3 linked regions of the Homo sapiens genome follow. The protein of the gene in region 3 purifies or fractionates together with the protein of the main gene of each other region. This does not show direct contact. Each region holds a gene or a part of one and is shown on either strand. Other genes may lie near its edges.

Region 1 (7,745 bases), on a different chromosome or scaffold from region 3:
ATTACACTTCTCAAGTGACTCTAGGGATTACATTTCAACTCCCTTCTTACACAAATTAAGGAAAGTGATATTCAGAGAGATTATATGACATGTTCAAGATTACACAGCAAGTTGGGCAGAGCAAGCATTAGAAGTTAGGTCTCTGGATTTCTATTTCAGGTTCTTTCCATTCATGGTGGAATTCTGAGCACCTGGCTCTCCTGGTCCTTTAAATATCAGACATTTGCCCAAGTGTGAATATCCAAAACAACAGACTGTCCTCAGAAAGGCAGCCTATTCACCCTCCAGGAGGCTGAGAGAGGGGCATGATTACATCATCCACGATGGCTCCTTCCTGCTCCTGGGGAAATGGCACAACACAGAGTACACACACTGAACTCCACTTATGTCCCAGTCACAGCATCTTCACATACACCCAGGATGGATATCTTGTGGTCCACAAGCAATGTCAGCCACCTACGACAGCCCTACCTTTTTAGGAACTTGTCTGAGCCACCTACCACAACTACTAGCACTGATGGGATCACTGATAAAAACCAGTATTCTGATGGGATCACTGATAAAAGCCAACGTCCACTGCATACTCACCTGGATTTCCCTTCCAAGAGGTAGCAGTCTGTCTGACACAAACTCTGTCCCTTCGCATACCAGAAAGAAATGTTTGGGGACCTTGGCGTTCTAGGTATGACACCTTAGCATGCCAGCTGCTTCTAAGAACAAACGCACTATCATATGGGACCATGCATTTTGAAACCATCTCACTCAAATCTGATGCCAAACCAACTGTTTTCATCATGCCTATTTTCTTTTTCACCATAGCAATTTTTATATGTTTTATTGTACTTTCATCAAAGCACCATCTTCTGGTTGAAATGATCAACAGAGACCCCAACTTCTTCCAGCACCCCACTTTGTGAAAACAGCATTGTAGTACTTGAGTATTTATGATTCTTTGAGGTTTTGAATTAACCCAGATAACTTGTTTGGTCACTGACCACCAGTGATCCCTTTCAATATGCTTCTAGGAAGAGTGACAAAAGAGACTAAACATGCCTTTGGCAAAAATTAGGACTTTCTAGAAAGTTCTTATTACTGTGATCCTTGGCTTCCCTCAAAGTTGTTTTAATTCACTGGAGAAGGATCACCTTTACCAAGAAACAGATTGTGTGGTGAAAAGAAATATGGGCTGTGGAACCAAAGCAATGAGTTTGGTGCTACCACTTACTTATAAACTCCGGCAAGTATTTAACCTCAGAGCCTTGGTTCCTGGTTCATAAAATGAGAATAATAATATCTGCAAGCAGTAATGAATTGAAAAATCCCTCATAGAATTTTTGGGTCAGAATAAATGCCCATACACAGCTATAGTGACGTGGGCATTTTAGGAAGAAGAATTTCTGTGGGTGTTAATCTTATGGAAAGGCAATCCAGTATCACATTTAGCTTAAACGCTATATTCATTACACTCAGTGTACACACTTTCAACATTCTTATCCCCAGTAGCTGCTCACATTGACTGTTTCCTACTGAGCCCTCTCTGAGAATAGCAGAGCTCTATTTGTAGAGAAGGCTCCTGGCATTTTTGGTACCCTTTCAATCCCATAGCTATTCATCACAGTAAAGACACTACCACCAATGGTCAGCAGATGTGGGATTGAAAGCAATCAAGAGTTTCCTTTGGAAATAGCCCTGCAGACATTACATTTCCAGGTACAAAGCTTAAGGAAAAGTCTGCCTTGGCAGCTTGTCTGGCACAGGCTTCATCTTTGGTAAACAAAACATGACTATACCACCTTTGTTTTGTTAGAAAACTTGGAAGCTGTATTTCCAAGCCAACTGGATCTTTGGTCTTTCCTCAAAGACAAGGGGCCCTGGCTCTTAAAGACTTGCTGGTAGGCCCTGTGCTGTTCCTGAATTTTATCAACTAAACTCATCTTTAGGAAATGGAACATGGATGCAGAATGCAACTGGTTCTGCCTGTCAGAAAAGAAGCAAGCATTCAAATATCCAACAGAGGTTGCCAAAACATCTGAAAAGATGTTCTAATAACCACAAAGTTGAAAATAGCATGACATCTTCTGGAGTCAGGAGGTGACTTCAGAGGGAGATCCATGAAACAAATTAGATGGTTAAGATACTAGGCCCTGGAGGGGGCAGGGAGAAAGGGTTATTTTCTGCCCCAAATTAAAAATCAGGAACATAGAACACCGTGGCGCCATCTCACCTAGCTATGCTATAGGTTCTGGGATAAGATATTGCCCTCAGCAAGAATGACTTGGAGCTGGAATAAACTTTTTACCAGTGAAAGCGCTAATTCTAAGTAGACTCAAGGAAACCCTGAAAATAGCAGGCAAATCTCCTGTGACTTCCCCCTCTTTTAAACGTTGAAAAACATGACTTAGCATACTTATCTCCCATTATGATGTTTCATTCCAGAAATACAAACTAAGAAAACACTGTGTTTTAACCATAAGGAATTCTTGAAATTTCTCAAATCTTCATCCCAAGTGTTGTCATTTAAAAACAAACAAACAAACAGAATCCCCCAGAAGTTACTAGTAGTACCTGGTGGAAATTGTCAAACACCTGGTTGTGTATATGTCCCTTCACAGGCAAGGCTATTAATAGGTGGCTCAACAAATACATGGAGCTATGAATATCTCTTCCAGATTACACACCCATCCATACTAGGGCTCTTCAAGCAAAAAACAAAACACCTTCTCTTGGTCTAGATCAACTCACCCCCATTGTAAGTACCCAAGAAATACAACCTTCCCCACACAAAGTCAAAAAGAGGCCAAACCTGGGAGTCAATGAGGACCCTAAGTTCACTCACTTGTCTTCTGTGAAACTTTTCCCAGTAATAACATTCTTCCCTTGGGGTACATAGTTCCAGTATTCTTCCACAATCCCAATGTAGTACGTTCTGGTAACTGTGCCAACCAGCCCAGACAGACCCAGGAATGTGAGGAGAAAGATGCAGCCAGCTGGCTGCTTCCGAGGCATTTGTGGATGTAACTCAAGCAGGCAGGCAGCCTGCACAGGGGACAAATCTGTTGGTCCCTCCCCCTCACTCAGCTCCTCCTCCTCAGGTAGCTTGGGTTTGGGGAAGAGGCAAAGGCTGAGGCCTTGCGTAAGCAAAGCAAGCTCGATGGGGGCGTTGCTTTGACAACAAAACTTTTGCCAGCCATCCGAGAAATGTGTGACTGGCTCATTTATGTATTGCCCAAGCCAACAGGCCTGTTTCTATACGTTTCGGTACCATGCTCTGACATCAGTCATTTGTCAGCCAGGATGACAGTGTGACTACTTGAGCCGATGGCTTTCCCCCACCCCTTCTTCTTCTTTTCTTCTCCACACCTCTTACATTAAAATCTGAAAAGTGAGCTGGCCTGAGTGGAGCATCAGGAAACACTCCAGGCACTAAAGAAGGCCTCCTCTCTGTCGGGAGGGCAGAGGAAGTGACATAATCACCATCCAGCTTGTTTTATGAGGCTATGTGAAACCACAAACTAACATCATAAAGTTCATCACAACAACATAAAACCCCACTAATCCTCCACTGGCTCGTGTACCATCTCCCCCATATTCTCTCAAATCCTTCCAGCAAAAATGAGAAGGTTGACTGCTCAGTTCAGCCAAAATGTTCGCGGCCACCACCTCCACACAGGGAGCCGCCTTTCTTAGGATGAATGAAAATGATGATGGGGAAGTACCCTTCAGACACATGGAGACAAAATTCAGTAACAGGTCTTTGGGTGGAAAAGGCTGGGCCATTCTTCTGTGTCTTCTAATCTGTGTCCCAGAATCTCGGTATTGAAAGAGACCTTGATCAACCTTGGAAAAGAGTTACTCTTATCCCCATGCACAGTTACTCTTGAGGGAGCAGCCATGGAATGAAGGAAACAGCCTCCTGGCCTTTGAAGTTGGTCAGACCTGGGTTTGAATGTGAGTTCCCACCACTTTCCAATTTAGTGGCATGGAGGAATCACTTAACATCATTGAGCTGGAGACTATAGAAGAAGGATTGAGGGATTCTTAAGGAACTTTTTAAAAGATGATGTCTGCAAAGTGCTTACCCCAGCCCCTAGCATAGGGTAGGTACTAAGTAAGTGTTAAAGTCCTTCCTGCCCATTCATGCCCTCTAAGAGAGACTGTATCAACCTGTGTATCCACAGACTTGTGTTTCCCCGCAGTCTTCAACTTTCTTTCCACTATTCTTTGCCAAAGTCCTATCTGCCATGCCTTCCACCAGTCTCAAGTAAGAGAATTCTTTTTCTTTAAATGGTAGCTACCCTATAAATGTCCCATAGCACAGTTTGTATTAGCATTCATCTTAATTAATAAAAGGCCAGGCACGGTGGCTCAGGTCTGTAATCCCAGCAATTTGGGAGGCCAAGGCAGTCAGATCACCTGTGGTCACGAGTTTGAGACCAGCCTGGCCAACATGGTGAAACCCTGTCTGTACTAAAAATACAAAAATTAGCCGGGCGTAGTGGCAGGCGCCTGTAATCCCAGTTACTTGGGAGGCTTAGGCAGAAGAATCGCTTGAACCTGGGAGGTGGAGGTTGCAGTGAGCCAAGATTGTGCCACTGCACTCCAGCCTGGGCAACAAGAGCAAGATTCCTTCTCAAAATAAGTAAATAAATAAATAAATAAATAATAAAATACATACTGAGTATCCTGTTTCATAGCCAGGCTCTTTACAACTTTGATTTACTGATTTGTTTGTTGTATCAAGGACACTGGTAGAATAATTGCCACAGCACATTTCCATTTAGCTAAAATCTCCTCTTCAACATGAGTTTGGGAGCTTCGTATGAGTCTGGCACTTCAACGGACACTATAGAGGAGGACTTACGTGGTAGGCCTGAGGTTGGCCTCAGAAGAAGTAGGGAGTTCAAAGTATGGGGAATCTGGCCAGGCGCAGTGGCTAATGCCTATAATCTCAGCACTTTGGGAGGCCGAGGTGGGTGGATCACCTGAGGTCAGGAGTTCGAGACCAGCCTGCCGAATATGGTGAAACCCTGTCTCTACTAAAAATACAAAAATAACCCGGGCATGTTGGTGCATGCCTGTAGTCCCAGCTACTAGGGAGGCTGGGGCAGGAGAATCTCTTGAACCCTGGAGGCAAAGGTTGCAGTGAGCCAAGATCTCACAACTGCACTCTAGCCTGGATGATAGAGCGAGACTCTGTCTCACAAAAAAAAAAAAAAAAAAAAAAAAAAAAAAAAAAAAGGTTGTGGAATTTGGAAATGTCCCAAACCAAATATCTTGTTGCTTACATCCCAGAGAAGCTGGCTATTTTGGGCGTATCAAAGACGTTATTAGGACATATTCCCCCCTTTTTGGACAGGAGAAAAAAAAAGGTATAAGTGATACAGCTCAAAAAGACAAAAGAGTTAACTTTCTTACCCAAGATACTGAACGCATATAATTAAAACCCAGGAGAAGGCATTACCTAACTTCTGATTCAAAAACTAGATCTGCAGAATAGATCAGGTCAAGAAATCTGAGTCACTATAGCAGATGAAGTCAACGCATTTAATCTATTTGTAGCAGAGAACTTGCTTACAGAGGGCCAAAAGTGGGAAAGAATTTATTAAAAACAATGAAATAGGGTTCTGGAAAGCTCTCTTAAATTCTTCCTTATCCTAGGACAATAAAGGTGTTACTCAAAGAGCATTGGAATGCCATAGGAGCTAAAGAAAATAAACTGGTATGAGACAATGCAGTGTTCCTGTGACACTCATTTCAGAAAAGCGACAGTTCCACGCCCAATGTGTTTGACAGTGTCTAAATTTTATTAGGAAACCTGTGAATTATCATATCAACACTCATTTTTAAAAACCCACAGTTACATACAAGATATGTTTGACAATGTTTAAAATTTGATTAAGTAACCTGTGTAAGTAATAATGTTAGCAAATACTTCCAACTCCATTGAACACTAGTCAGACATTTTTTTAAAGTCAAGAAACCCATTTATCAAGCATTTATTATGTGAGATGGCCAGTTCTAAATATTCACTCCATTCCTCAAAACATTCACCAGGTTTCAGATAAGGTAAATTTGACATCATGCATCAATAGCAGAGAAAGATAATGCTGGGTTAAATCACATTTTATTGAAATTATGGTACAGGCACACCTTGAAGATATTGCAGGTGTGGTTCCAGACCACCATGATAAAGTGAATATCAAAATAAAGCGAATCACATGGATTTTTTGGTTTTCCAGTGCGTATAAAACTTATGCTTAGGCCATGTACAGTGGCTCACACCTGTAATCCCAGCACTTTGGGAGGCCAAGGTGAGAGGATCACTTGAGGCCAGAAGTTTGAGACCAGCCTGGGCAACATGGCAAAACTTGTCACCATAAAAAATACAAAAAAATTAGCCAAGCATGGTGGGGTGCACCTATAGTCCCCGCTACTCAGGAGGCTGAGGTGGGGGGATCATTTGAGCCCAAGAGGTCGAGGCTGTAGTATGTTAAGATCATGCCACTGCACTCCAGCCTCACTGACAGAAGGAGACCCTATCTAAAAAAAAAAAAAAGTTATGTTTACACAATATTACAGTCTATAAGTGTGTGTGCAATTGCATTATGTCTAAAAAATGTACACACCTTAATTTAAAAATACCTTATTGTTTAAAAATGCTAACAATCACCTGAGTCTTCAGTGAGTCAGTCTTTTTGCTGTGGAGGGTCTTGCCTCAATGTGGATGGCTGCTGACTAATCAGGATGGTGGTCACTGAAGGTTGAGGTGGCTGTGGCAACTTCTTAAAATAAGAACAATAGTTTGACACATCATTTGGTTTCCTTTCATGAAAGATTACTCTATAACCCATGATGCTGTTTAATAGTATTTTACCAATAAAAGAACTTCTTTCAAAATTGGAATAAATTTTCCCAACCCTGCTCCTGCTTTATCAACTAAGTTTATGTAATATGCTGAATCCTTTGTTGTCATTTCTACAATATTCACAGCATCTTCACCAGTAAATTCCATTTCAAGAAACCACTTGCTTTGTTCATCCATAAGAAGCAACACCTTATTCATGTAAATTTTATTATGAGATTGCAACAATTCAGTCACATCTTCAGGCTCCACTTCTAATTGTAGTTCACTTGCTGCTTCCACCACATCTGCAGTTACTTCCTCCATTGAAGTCTTGAACCTCTCAAAGTCATCCATGAGGGTTTGAATCAGCTTCTTCCAAACTCCTGTCAATGTTGATATTTTGACCTTCTCTCATGAATCACAAATATTCTTAACAGCATTTAGAATGGTGAATTATTTCCAGAAGGTTTTCAATTTACTTTGCCCAGATTCATCAGAGGAATCACTATCTATGGCACCTATAGCCTCAAGAAAGGTATTTCTCAAGTAATAAGATTGAAATTCAGTTACTCCTTGATCTATGACATACGGAATGGATGTTGTGTTAGCAGACATGAAAACAACATTCATTTCATTATACATTTCCGTCAGAGCTCTTGGGTCACTAGGTGCGTTGTTAATGAGCAGTAATATTTTGAAAGAATTTTTTTTTCTTAGCAGTAAGTCTCAGCCCTGGACTTAAAATATTCAGTAAACCATGCTGCAAACAGATGTACTGTTGTCCAGACATTATTATTCCATCTAGGGAGTATAGACAGAGTAGACTGTGCATAATTCTTAAGGGTCCTGGGACATTTGGAATGGTAAATGAGCACTGGCTTCAACTTAAAGTCACCAGCTG
Region 2 (8,030 bases), on a different chromosome or scaffold from region 3:
AGGAGCCTGGCTGTGTTCGTGTGTGATAGTGAGTGATGGTGTGTGCCTGGGACTATGGCCACAGGTATCTGTAGGACATTGTGAGTCTTTCTTGACTACACAGCATTGCGTACTGTGTGTGCTTCCTCTTATGTGATTGTGTGGCTCGCATGCAGCTGCCCCCACAAGCTGGCTTCCAGTGAGGCCCCTCCTGCCACTGAGTCAGTGGCAGGCAATCCTGGGTGAGGAGCCAGGATCCCAGGACCCAGGAGCTCAGGACTGAGCTCTTGTCCCTCCCTACCCTGAAGCCCCAGGCAGGCCTATCCCCAACCGGTTGGACCTAGAGAGGGATAAGACCGGGGGGTGTAGCCAGGGCCCCACCCTGGACACTCTGCCCTCCACCTCCCAGTCTCCAGCAACCCTGCCTCTGCAGGCCCCTCACCAGGCCTCACACACTCTCCGTCTGCGTTCTTTTTTGAGTCAACATGTCTTCTGGAGTCACAGCCCCAGGTCTCAGCAATCATTCTGTTCTATCATGTGGCTCAGGACCATGTTTACACATAGAGATCTCACACATGCACACACACAATTACACCATCACAGGCAAACAAATCGGCACGTGGCCCACTCTTACAAGGCTTCAAAATGCAGATACATACCTATATGGCCCCACCTTCCTACAAACACAGACACTATATAGATTCATTCAGACACAGACACAATCTGCACACAAACACAGAACATATTAATTCAAAAGACACACCCACCGTGTGTTCATATAGTCCCTGTATGTGTTCATTCAAGACCAGACATATCTATGGAAGCCCTGCCAGGAAGGCTTAGCCTGGCTCCAGAGAGGCCAGCAAGGGCCCTTTCAACACCCTCAACAGCTCAGGGATCCCTGAACATCCCCCCTAGGAACACTGGCTGGGCCATCAGCTCTGTCATAACCCAGCTAGACTCCAAGGTGACCCAGAGCAGGCAGGCTGACTGCTGGGGCTCTAACGGGACCTAGTGATGCCTCTTCCAGCTCCAGGCCAAGAGAACAACAGCTCATTCCTGAGATAAGGATCCTGCTGCCATCTGCCAGATCCTGAGGCTGCTCAAGGCAAGCCAGGGATGAGCCAGAACTCGGCTGAGAGCAGAGGCTCCACCCTGGAGAAGCACCGCTGGAAGCACCCACACAGGAAGGACTCTCTCCATGCCATAGGAGCCTGCCAGGCAGGATGGTAAGCATTCAGGGAGAGGGGCTTGGGAAGGAGCGACAGGCTGCAAGAAAAGCACCTCCACCCTGCACCAGGCTGAGAGATTCTTCAATTGTCCCAGACCAGGGAGCCTCACCCAGCTTTTCTATCTCCTTAGAAGTCTTCTCAACCTCCTCCCAAGGGTTCCAGCCTTTCCGCACCCCTCCCTCTCCTTGGGAAGTTGCTCCTAATGTCTCACCTTGATTCCTCTTGCTGTAGCACTAAGGAAGTACTACAGGGAATGTGAGAGGAGAGGCTGGAGAGAGGGAAGAAAGGCAAAGTGGAAGAGAGAGCTGGATGGGAGACTTGAGGAGAGACAGGAATGGAGGAATCACATGGGCTCTCCAAGGAAGAGGACAGTGGTGATTCTTTGCCCCCCAAAAGCACCAGAAACTGGCCATGCTTTACGGGGTGTCATCTCAATAGTGGTGCCTACTCTCTGCTTGCAAATTCTTTCTGAATCTTCAAGGTGCTTCCAGAACTCCTGATCTTCCCTCTGGAGGTAAGGGAGGGGAGAAAAGGCGGCTCCAGCTGAGGGTATTGATGCGTTAATGCAGCCAGTGCTGAGTTGTCCTCACACACCCATTGACACACCACACAGGGGGAAGTCCGGGTCCCCACAGCACAGCTGGAGCCTCCCGAGTGGACTCTGCCAGCCCTGCTCTCATCAGACAGAGAAGGGCTGCAGCTATCCTGCCGGAAATGTCATCATTCCCATGCAGGTGCACGCACCCACACACTCACATACACATTCACGCTCACACAAAGGCTGAAAATGTCACCCCGCCTTCCCAAATTCCTCCTTCATGCCCCTTCATCCCAAATCCAGACTGCAAGAGGGACTCGGAGCCCTTTCCAGTGATGTTGGCATAGAATGCCCCTTGGTGGAACTTGCCCCAACCTGGGCAGGAAGCCACAATGTCCAAACTTGAGCCCTGCCCTGTGGACCTGTCCTGGTGGGGTGAGAAGTCTCTGGAGTTGCCATCCCCACCACCCTCAGGCCTCATCCTAGAGTGGGGCACTGCCCTGTCATAGCACAGGGGGCCCAAGGCTGAGGTCTCAGGCCTGAGCTGTCACTGGCCATGATGGAAGAAACCACTCAGACTTACACCAGACTTAGTCTCTTGCCCTTTCAAGGCAAGTGACTTCCCTGCCCCTTGGCCCTGGCCTTGGGAGAGAAGGAGTAGCGTTGGGAATAGCACACAGTCTGATGAAAATTGATCCTTCCCAAGCTCCTCCTGAGCCCTCACCCAATGCCCGTGCTTACCCCTCTCCTACCCCACCTCCAGCTCCTGCAGAGCAATCAATCCCTCTCCTCCTAGTCACGGCATGAGCTTGCAGGGCACCTGCACACATGTGTGAGCCCGACAGGGGACATATAAAGATCCACTCAAAGACCTCTGCACTACAGACACACACCCTGAACATCAGGCACAGGGTCTCCTGGGGAAAGGTCCCCTGGTAATACCCACACCCGGCTGCAGCAGGGCAAGGGTGGGCAGCACCCTGCCAGGCAACTCAGGCAGCCCCAGGCTCCACTGTGAGCCCTTGCTGCCCCTTTCCTTCCCACCTAGCCTCATGCTGGCTACCCTGCCCCCTGCCCAGCCCCGTACCTGGGCTCAGGCACACGAGTAGAAGGTGGAATGCTCCTCCAACTCTCATGTCTCTAGGCTCGGTGTTTCCTCCGTCTGGGCTGGGTATCCCGTGGGGTCGTAGTGGTGGGTGTGAGGGGGTAGGTGGAGGGAGGGGGAGCTGAGGGCCCAGACACTGCCTGGGGTGGCAGGAAGGTGCAATGAGTGCCCAGCTGGGGAGCAGCTGGAGTTATTTCTATGGGAGGGAGGGGGCCTGGTCCCCGCCTTGGGGAGGAGTCCCAGGAACCCTAATTAGCAGGGTGACAGGGTGGCCTACCTGGGCATTACCCAGCCCTCACCCAAGCTCTTCCCTGTCCTAAGAGTGGCACAGGACAGCCAGCGGGACTTGTAATTAGGCACCTGTTAAACTTCACTTCCTCCTGGCCACATCCTCAGGGTGACAACAGTCACCTCATTTACAGCTTCCAAGGGCTCCCCTCACCACTCATTTGCTGCCTCCTTCCCTGGGGGAAGTGGGGAAGAGGAAGGAGAAGCCAGGCTTGGGAGAAAGAGTGGCCAGGACCTGAAGAGTTAATCCTGATCCCAGGGCATAGGGTTCCCCAGGAGTGTCCAGCCCACCTTCCCCCAGGCTTCAGGCCTTTCAAAGGGACTCAGGCCTCCTGAGCTGAAAGAGGAGAGAAGGGGTGTGTGCAGGAACAGAGTCTCCTCCTGGCTGTCCCCTCTGGAACTGTCCTCCACACCCATACTCGACTCAAGGCCATCCCCAAGTGTAGGGGACCCCTGGGAGCAGGGGTGCTATGGGGGGTCCAGGGTGTGTGCTAGGAGTAAGGTGACTGATGGGCTAGTGAGGGAGTGTTGGAGAGAACAGCGCCAAGAGGACCAGGGAAGGGGGTGCCTGTGTAAGCGTGTGCACCCCTCAGCAATGTCTGTGGGAGGGAGGCAGGATGTCTGTGTCAGGGTGTCTCTGTGAGGATGGCTAAGCCCCTCTGAGTGAACTTCTTGAGGGATCGCTTGGTGTCCTGGCTTCTCTGCCCAGAAAGAGTAGCCAGGTCTTGAGGGTTAATGCAGTCCCAGTATTAACTGGGTCCTTGAGACCAAGGACCCTCATAACCTGGACTGGTCATCGGGCTGACTAAACCAGCACAGTTCTGGGTAAGTTCGTGCTGGGGTGGGGAGGGTCCTGGTAGGCATGGGGAGCAAGTGAAGGGCCACCCCTTGTTGGCTTGTCTAAGGGGGACAGAATGGGCATGTGCCTTGTTGGACTCCATGGTGGGAGTCAGGACATGAGTGACCCCATTCAATAGCTCAACTCCCTCAAAGGAGTCAGGGACTGCCCCCATCCCTACCATGGGGCACAGAAAGGGCAGAGGAGGAAGAGTGTTAGGGAGAGTTATGGGGCTCAGGGATGCTGCCAGGGCCCACCCCTCTGGGGAAAAATAAGTCAGAACATTAAGGAAACACAAGGAGTCCACGCGTCTCTGCATTCCAAGCCGTTGCACCTGAACTCCCAACAATAACAGGGCGCTCTGAGACCTACCAGATGTACACAATGAATATCTTTATTTCCTTATTTATTTTTAGGTTTATGGGATTGTCCTGCTCCCTTTGAAGAGCAGGGATCATTATCCCCATTTTACAGATGGGGAAACAGAGACCTGGAGAAACATGGGGATTCAGCCAATGCGGCTGGTGCCTAAGCTGGGATACCCAGGTACCCAGGGTGTCAGTCCAGAGAGGTCCAAAAAATGGTCTTGGTGATCCTGTGGATTACTAGACCCACTCACGAACAAGAACCATGGAAGGTCAGGGTGAGTGGGAGGGAAAACAGGTCAGACCACGAACAGAGAGATTGAGGAGAAAGCAGTAACATTGTGGTTCCACTAAACTACAGTGCAGGCTTCAGATTTAATTGGGTTCTGGATGTGGGCTAATGTTAGAGCTGGGGTTAAGTTTGGGGTTAGTTGAATTATGAATGAGGTTGAGGTCAGATTTGAGGTTGGGATTAGAGTTAAGGTTGGGATTAGGGTTAGAAATACAGCTAGAATTGAGGCTCAGGTTTATGGCTGGGATTTGTGTTACGATAAGGAATAGAGTTTTAGTTTCATTTACAGCTCTGCCTGGGAATACAGTTAGGGCTAAATCAAAGGCTGGGTTTAGATTGATTTAGCATTGGGTTAGAACTAAGTTTGAGATTCACATTGAAATAGGCTGTGGTTAGGGTTGGAACATGGTTTAAAGACACGTAAGCAGCGGGAGTTGATGGGGATCAAAGATGAGGTTTTATTTCTAATATAGAAAGACTTCAGCCTCCATCTGCTAAATCCAGGTTTGGCTAGAATTTTCAATCCTTAGTGCGGGGAGACTACTAATGGCACATGTTGATTGGGGTCCCAAGACTTGGAGGAGGAAGCCAAATGTACACGAGCCCATCTAAGGGGTATGAGGCAACTAAATCCCATAGAGAATGGACCCTCTGAAGTCCTGCTCCACTACTAAAGCTCACCACCTGGCCAAGCTCCAGAAAAACATCTGGGGAGGAGACGCAGGAAGCTACTGACAATGAGTTGGGCTCTGACACCAAACCGAACTAGAAGATGGGGTCCATCAGAGGGAGTCTTACTGAGTGGGGAGGAGGGGTGGTCTGGATTTGGAGTCCTTAGGAGATGGGAGTTGGGAGAAACTGAGGGCCTACATGCTCCTAGAACAGCCACTTTATGGGGCACCACATGGGGGTCTTTCAAAGCCTGAAAGGGCAGAGTGCCATTGTTGTTTCCCCTTGACCCTCTGAGGCTTAATTGCTACCTTCTTGCAATTTGAGTCCTATAAAAGAAGCTGTCAGCCTTCCAGCCCTAAACCCTGAGCCCTGCAGGGTTTTCAGGGAGGGCAGCAGTGGGGAGGCTGTGGATGGGGTGAAGGCACTGGGGTGTCAGCATAGTTTCCAAAGCATATGTCACAGTCCTACAGTCCCCTCCCTCTGGGCCCAGCTCACAGTCCGTGTAAGTCTCTGGGCCTTATCCTCAGCAGTGGAAGAGGGCCCCACTCCTAGGAAGACCCCGTCCCAATTCCTCCCTCTCATTTTTCCCCAACCAGTCTCCAGCCCAAACATCTCATTTCCCCACCCACTTCCTTTTCAGGTTTTATAAAGGTCTGGTCCAGGAGACTACTGGGGTTCCCCCTGTGACCCCAGAGAGAGAGAAGAAAGAGATTGGGAGAGATAGTGATGAGTTAAGGGGCAAAGACAGAGACAGGGACAGAGGCAGACAGAAAGACACATGGTCTAAATGGCCCCTCCAGAGACTCAGAGGGATACAGAGGAGGCAGAGGGCCCAGGCCACGAGCTGGGAACCAATACAAATTTCCAAAAGGGCCCCTTGCTTTTTCCTAAGAAATCCATGACTCTCCAGGGAAGAATGGCCCTGCTTTGACTGGTATTTGCTTCTATTCTAAGACAGTAACAGAAAATCAAAGACTGGCTTAGAAAGGAGTAAACAGGGAGATACAGGAGGTAGGAAGAGGCTGGACAAAAACTCAGAGAAGGCCACAGATTGCTTACCAGATGAAGTGCAGCCCAGCCCCAGAACCTTTCTGGGAAGGACGGACAGAGGGCTTGGGCTGCCTACTCTTCCTCCAAAGCCTATTCTTCCTCCAAAGTCCCTTTCATGGCAACTCCACCCCACTCCTCTAAGCCCTGCCCTCCCCTGCCTGTACTTGCCCACCCCAACCCCTCTCAGTGGCCGCCAGACTCCCTGGGCTCAGGCTCAATCAAGCTCCCCACAACCCCTGCCTTGGCTGGCACTGCAATTTGACTCATTCTAAACTCCTCCCCACACAGTCAGCAAGCTCCTCAGCCCCCTCTCCCAAGTCCCCATGTAGCCCAGGGCTCACCCTGCAGCACCCAGGGAGGAGCTGTCCTGCAGAGGAAACCTCTGAGGTAAGACTCTGGGAGCAGAAGCTGTGAGTGACAATGGATAGGCAAAGAGTCACAGAGAAGCCAAGGAGCCTTGCAGCTGCTGTCTGTCCACCCAGCTTTCAGTGATGATTTGGAGGTGGAGGTCTGCCAGGTGAGGCCATGGTTGCATGAGAAGGGCAGGGGGCTCAGAGGTTGCATGGGTGGTGATGGGACAACGTCGGATTCTGGTTACAGAGAGGGATGAGATCGACATGTGGGGCTAAGTTTGAGGGTGTGGGTTGGGTTCGAAACTAAGGCTCAAATCAAAGCTGGCAGGGAAGAGCCGTGAACACAGGTGACACAGGGACTCCCCAAGCTCCTGCTTAGGTTTCCCAAACCTCAGTGGTTCTGACTGGTACACTTCAGAAGAAGTGGGATTCTAGGAGGAGCCTGGATATGCCCACATCTCTCCCATCAAGCAATGTCCTGAAGCTGACAGACTCAGAAGAGCAAGCAGCACACACATAGTCCCCATCAATTAAAGGAGTGGCTGGAGTTGTCACTACATCAACAAAGCACAAGAGCAAAGGGAGGCGATTGAATGCCACCAACTGAATTGTTAGCAAGAGAATGAGTGGAGGCGAGAAGAAATCGCTTGTAAAGGCTATGTGATTCCCTGATGACAGATCTGAGGAAGAATGAAGAGGCTTTGAAGATAAAGGTATCTTCACCTCGCCAAGATCAACCACATCCTGCAGAACCTTCATTCATTCAGCAAACAGCCAGGCTTTGTGCTAGGCCCTGGGGAAATGGCAATTAAGGAGACTCAGTCCCTATCCTCACAGAACACCCCATCTGACACGGAAATAGCTCCTGGCCCGCAATGTGGTAAGATGCAGTAATACGTGCAAGGCCCCTGACTTAGTGGCAATGATGTTTAAGCCGAGATCTGAAGGATAACTAACAACGGCGTGCCAGAGAAAAGAGTAGCGGGTGGAGAGAGGAGGCCAGGGGAATATTTCTGGGCTTGGTAAGTAAGCCAGGTCCCTGCCAGACATGGACTGAGAAGAGCAAAGCCAGGAGTGACAGCTGACGATTATTTTTTAACTGAGGAAGGAAGATCCTTGAGAACGGAACCTCTTGGGACCTTCTACCCAGAACACCAGAGCACCTCACTGGGATCAGAGCCAGGCCATCGGGTGGATTAAGCAACTAAAATTGATTGTCCTGAACCATGAGTCTGTCTGTTTATGGGGAGAGAAACTTTGAGATGAATTAATCCACAGGTCCAATGGGACTTTGACATTTTAATTTGTAGAAATAAAA
Region 3 (3,471 bases):
CCCCCTTGAGAGAGGGCTTGTTGGTGAGGGCTGACTCCTGGGGGCCCCCAAGGCTCCCCTCCTGTGGGGAGGCCACCTTTTAAGGCACCACTAGCAGTCAGGATATGGTGGCATCAGCCCTGGGGCCTCCTGGGTGGCAGGGGGGCAGCAGCTCTCCTCCCCACTCACAGGCCCTGCAGTGCTCATTTGGAATTCCTCCCAAGACCCCTGGCCACCCAGACCCCCCATTCTTCCTAACACTGGCAATAAACCCTCAACTGTGACCCACCGTGGCCTGAAGCTGCCTCTGTGTCAGGGTCCCCAAGGAAGGGGCTGGGGGTGGACACACCAAACCAGCTCTTCTTTGGGGATTCAATGGCCCCCTCCTCGACTGCATCAGACTTCCTTTGTGACCTGGGCCAAGTCCCTGCCCTCTCTGTGCTGTTTACTTGTCGGCAAAGTAGTGGCTGTGACAGCATGTGACTGGGGCCAATTATCCATTCAGACACAGCTGACACCTACTTTGTTCTGGGAACTTTAATACTGTGACAAAGTTCTCTAAAATAGGCACCTTCCCCACCGTACCTCATCGCCCAGGGCAGGCAGGCAGGGCAGGCTAGATCTCGTACCGATACTTGAGCACGCCTCCTCCTGGTGCAGAAAGAAACCTCTTCTGTACCGAAATACAAGCAGCAGCTGTGGCCTGGGCCACCAGGTGGAGCATGGGGAACACTCTGGGCCCTGGGAGGACGAAGCCAGTGCCACTAGGAGCAGACTGGCTGGGGACGGTTGTCCACACAGACTCTGGCCCCATCTGGGTGGGCTTGCAGCAGGCGTCCTGGGCCAGAGGAGGGGCCCTGGCATCTATCCAACACCAGGACCTCTCTTTAGGCCTAGGCCAAACTCTTCAGAAGTCACGACACACAGATGTGGGCCCCGGTCACGCCTCATGAGCTGTCTCTGGGAAGAAAATCTCCCGGCATCGCTGCACCGTGTCCTGAGGAGACACCACGCTGTGGCCAACAGTCCGGGGGTCGGCAAAGATCTCAAAGTCGTTCCCACCCTGCACACAGAGGATGGGCAGAGGAGGGATATTTAGGTGGAGTCCCTCTCCACATTGGCTGCTACGGACCTGCCCCTCCTCCTGCCCCTTCAGAACTGCCAGGAAGCCCACCTTCTCACCCCTTGTCAGACCTGCCCTGACTTGCTGTGTGATGTAGAACAAGTGCCCAGCCTCTTGGGGCCCCAGCTTTCCAATCTGTGTAACGGGGCTGGTGAGCAATGGTTGTTCTCCAGGAGCCCCCTAAGAGGTCTGTTGTGTTGCCCCATGTTCTGGCCTTGACCTCAGGTGATTTGCATTGGAGAAGCCACCAGACCTGGCTTCTCACTGTCCACTGCGTTAGGGGAAACCTGGGGTGGGCCACACTCACAGGGCTAGTCTCGTTCCCAAAGAAGTGGATGGTGTCGAAGCTGTCCTGGTCCAGGCTATCCAGGCAGTAGCGCTTGTCCCAGCCCTCGGGGAAGACGTCAAAGCTGATCATGCCTCCTGTGGGCAGGGGTGGGGACTGTTATTCCCTGCTGGGAGGGGCAGACAAGGCTAACAGAAGGGCTGCTTGTTCATTCATTCATTCAACAACCCTTGAGTGCCTACTGAGGGCCAGGAATAGGACACGGGACAGACTTAGGATCCTCAAGGAAGTTATGACACAGGTTGGAGAATGAACAAGACCATGAAGTGGGTGGGGGAAGCTCATCCGGCCAGGGTGATCAGGGGAGACCTCTGAGGAGGTGGCAATGAGCTGGGACCTGAGCCGAGTGGGGATGGCTGGGGCGCAAAGTACAGCCCCTGAGGCAGGGAAGAGAACGAGCGTCCCAGCAACGGAGGAGGCCAGGAGAGGTAGGGGGAGGACGGGCAGGCCCTGGGCATCACATGGAGAGGGAGGAAGAGCCTGGGGAGGACTTTGGGCAGAGGCATGTCATGACTCCAGCTCCAGCCTCTCTGGCCACTGGGGAATGGGTGAGGTGGCAGAGGGGAGCCCAGTTGTGTCAGGGTCAGTTGGAGCCTGGGACAAGCTGCTGGCAGTGGAAGTGTGAGCACCGGTGGGATTCCAGACAGGGGGCCCTGTGACTTCTAGGAGTTTGGACTTGGGAAGGGGTGGGGGAGAGCATTCAAGGGAGAGGCTCTGGTTTTTTGGCCTGAGAAACTGGGTGGGCATGGGGCGTTTACCTCTGAGGTATGAGGTGGGGAAAACTGGGGGCCAGTAAACACTGAACCCCTTTCTGCATCGGGCTCAGCCACCCTCTCTGCCCTGAGCCGGGGAGGGGCTACTAAAGCTACTGGGGGCCACAGCCTGGTCTTGGCAGGGGCAGATGGTTTGAGGAGGGGCCCTGTACCAGGCCTCCCAGGTCCTCTGCAGGGTGGACGTACCTCGAGAGAACCTCAGCCCTTTGCCAGCAAACTCTGTTTTCAGGGCTTCCACGAACTTCTCCCGGATCTTCTCTTTCTGCAGAGGGGAGGGAGCGGATGGCAGCTCAGAGGACCTGCTGTGTGCCAGGCCCTGGCTGGGCACACAGTCCACGTGAGCGTGCTGAGCATTCTAGGTGGGTAGGACCCCCAACTGTGCAGATGCGCAAACTAAGGCTCAGAGAGGGGTTGTGCCTTGGTCAAGGTCACCTAGCCCTGGTGGCAGAGCCAGGGCCTAAATCCAGAAGGGATGGGGCTGCCAATGGGGCTGTGGGCTGGGTCTTCTGAAGGAGACCTCAGAGGAGAGACACGAGTAGGAAGGGCGAGGAGACGGGGCAATCTGGATCCCACATCAGTGTCCACCTCAGGGCAGGGCTCGATCCTGTTATCTGTAACCAGCTCAACAAAGCAAATACTCAGAAATGAGCATGGGAGCTGAGAGCAGGAGACCTGTGAGGAGGTGGCTGTGGGCATTCACAGAGGGCAGCAGGATGCCAGGCATGGCAGAGCACCCAGCATGCAAAGACGCGGCTGGGCTGGGGACTAGGTAGTGCCCAGGCCGGCCCCGTCCCTCTGAGCAGGAACTCTGGCAGCAGCTCCGCAAACGTGGAGCAGGGGGACATTCTCCCCGCCAGCCCCCAGGATCTCCATCTCAGAGGGCCACAAAGGGGAGCAGCTATGCCCAGTCTGAGGGGCAGCTGAACATCTAAACCAGCCAGCAGGACATTCAGCTGACAGAGGGTCTCGAGACCGGGCTGGGAAGTCTGACCACATCCTGGGGGACCAAGAGGCGCTGAGGATTCTGGAGCACAGGAGTGGGGTGGCTGGTATGGCCCTGTAGTCAGAGCCGGGTAGGACTGGGGCGGAAAGGCAGGCAGTGGTCAGCAGCATGGAGCTTGGAGAAGTGGCCCAGGGAGGATGTCAGATATAAAGCCAGACACCCCCTAGCCTGAGATCTGAAGGCAAGTAGCCAGGCTTGGCTACTGTACTCCTCAGCTGTGTGACCATGGGCAAGTCACCTGACCTCT

Evidence for each region. The genes of interacting proteins can lie anywhere in the genome.
Region 1: the proteins of PMM1 (region 3) and HEPHL1 purify together in Homo sapiens (affinity purification with mass spectrometry; 3 studies listed by BioGRID and IntAct, with this or other methods). This does not show direct contact.
Region 2: the proteins of PMM1 (region 3) and VSIG8 purify together in Homo sapiens (affinity purification with mass spectrometry; 3 studies listed by BioGRID and IntAct, with this or other methods). This does not show direct contact.

What each region holds. Positions count from the first base shown.
Region 1 is NC_000011.10:94,016,630-94,024,374, reverse strand, and holds the start of HEPHL1 (ferroxidase HEPHL1 precursor), read right to left. Parts: upstream 3,022-7,745; 5' UTR 3,007-3,021; coding exon 2,837-3,006; intron 1-2,836. UniProt on the Homo sapiens protein: Is a copper-binding glycoprotein with ferroxidase activity. It oxidizes Fe(2+) to Fe(3+) without releasing radical oxygen species. May be involved in the regulation of intracellular iron content.
Region 2 is NC_000001.11:159,859,637-159,867,666, forward strand, and holds the start of VSIG8 (V-set and immunoglobulin domain-containing protein 8 precursor), read right to left. Parts: upstream 3,022-8,030; 5' UTR 2,886-3,021; coding exon 2,837-2,885; exon of another isoform or gene 1,010-2,836; intron 1-1,009.
Region 3 is NC_000022.11:41,576,399-41,579,869, forward strand, and holds the end of PMM1 (phosphomannomutase 1), read right to left. Parts: intron 2,484-3,471; coding exon 2,408-2,483; intron 1,526-2,407; coding exon 1,410-1,525; intron 1,043-1,409; coding exon 920-1,042; 3' UTR 502-919; downstream 1-501. UniProt on the Homo sapiens protein: Involved in the synthesis of the GDP-mannose and dolichol-phosphate-mannose required for a number of critical mannosyl transfer reactions. In addition, may be responsible for the degradation of glucose-1,6-bisphosphate in ischemic brain.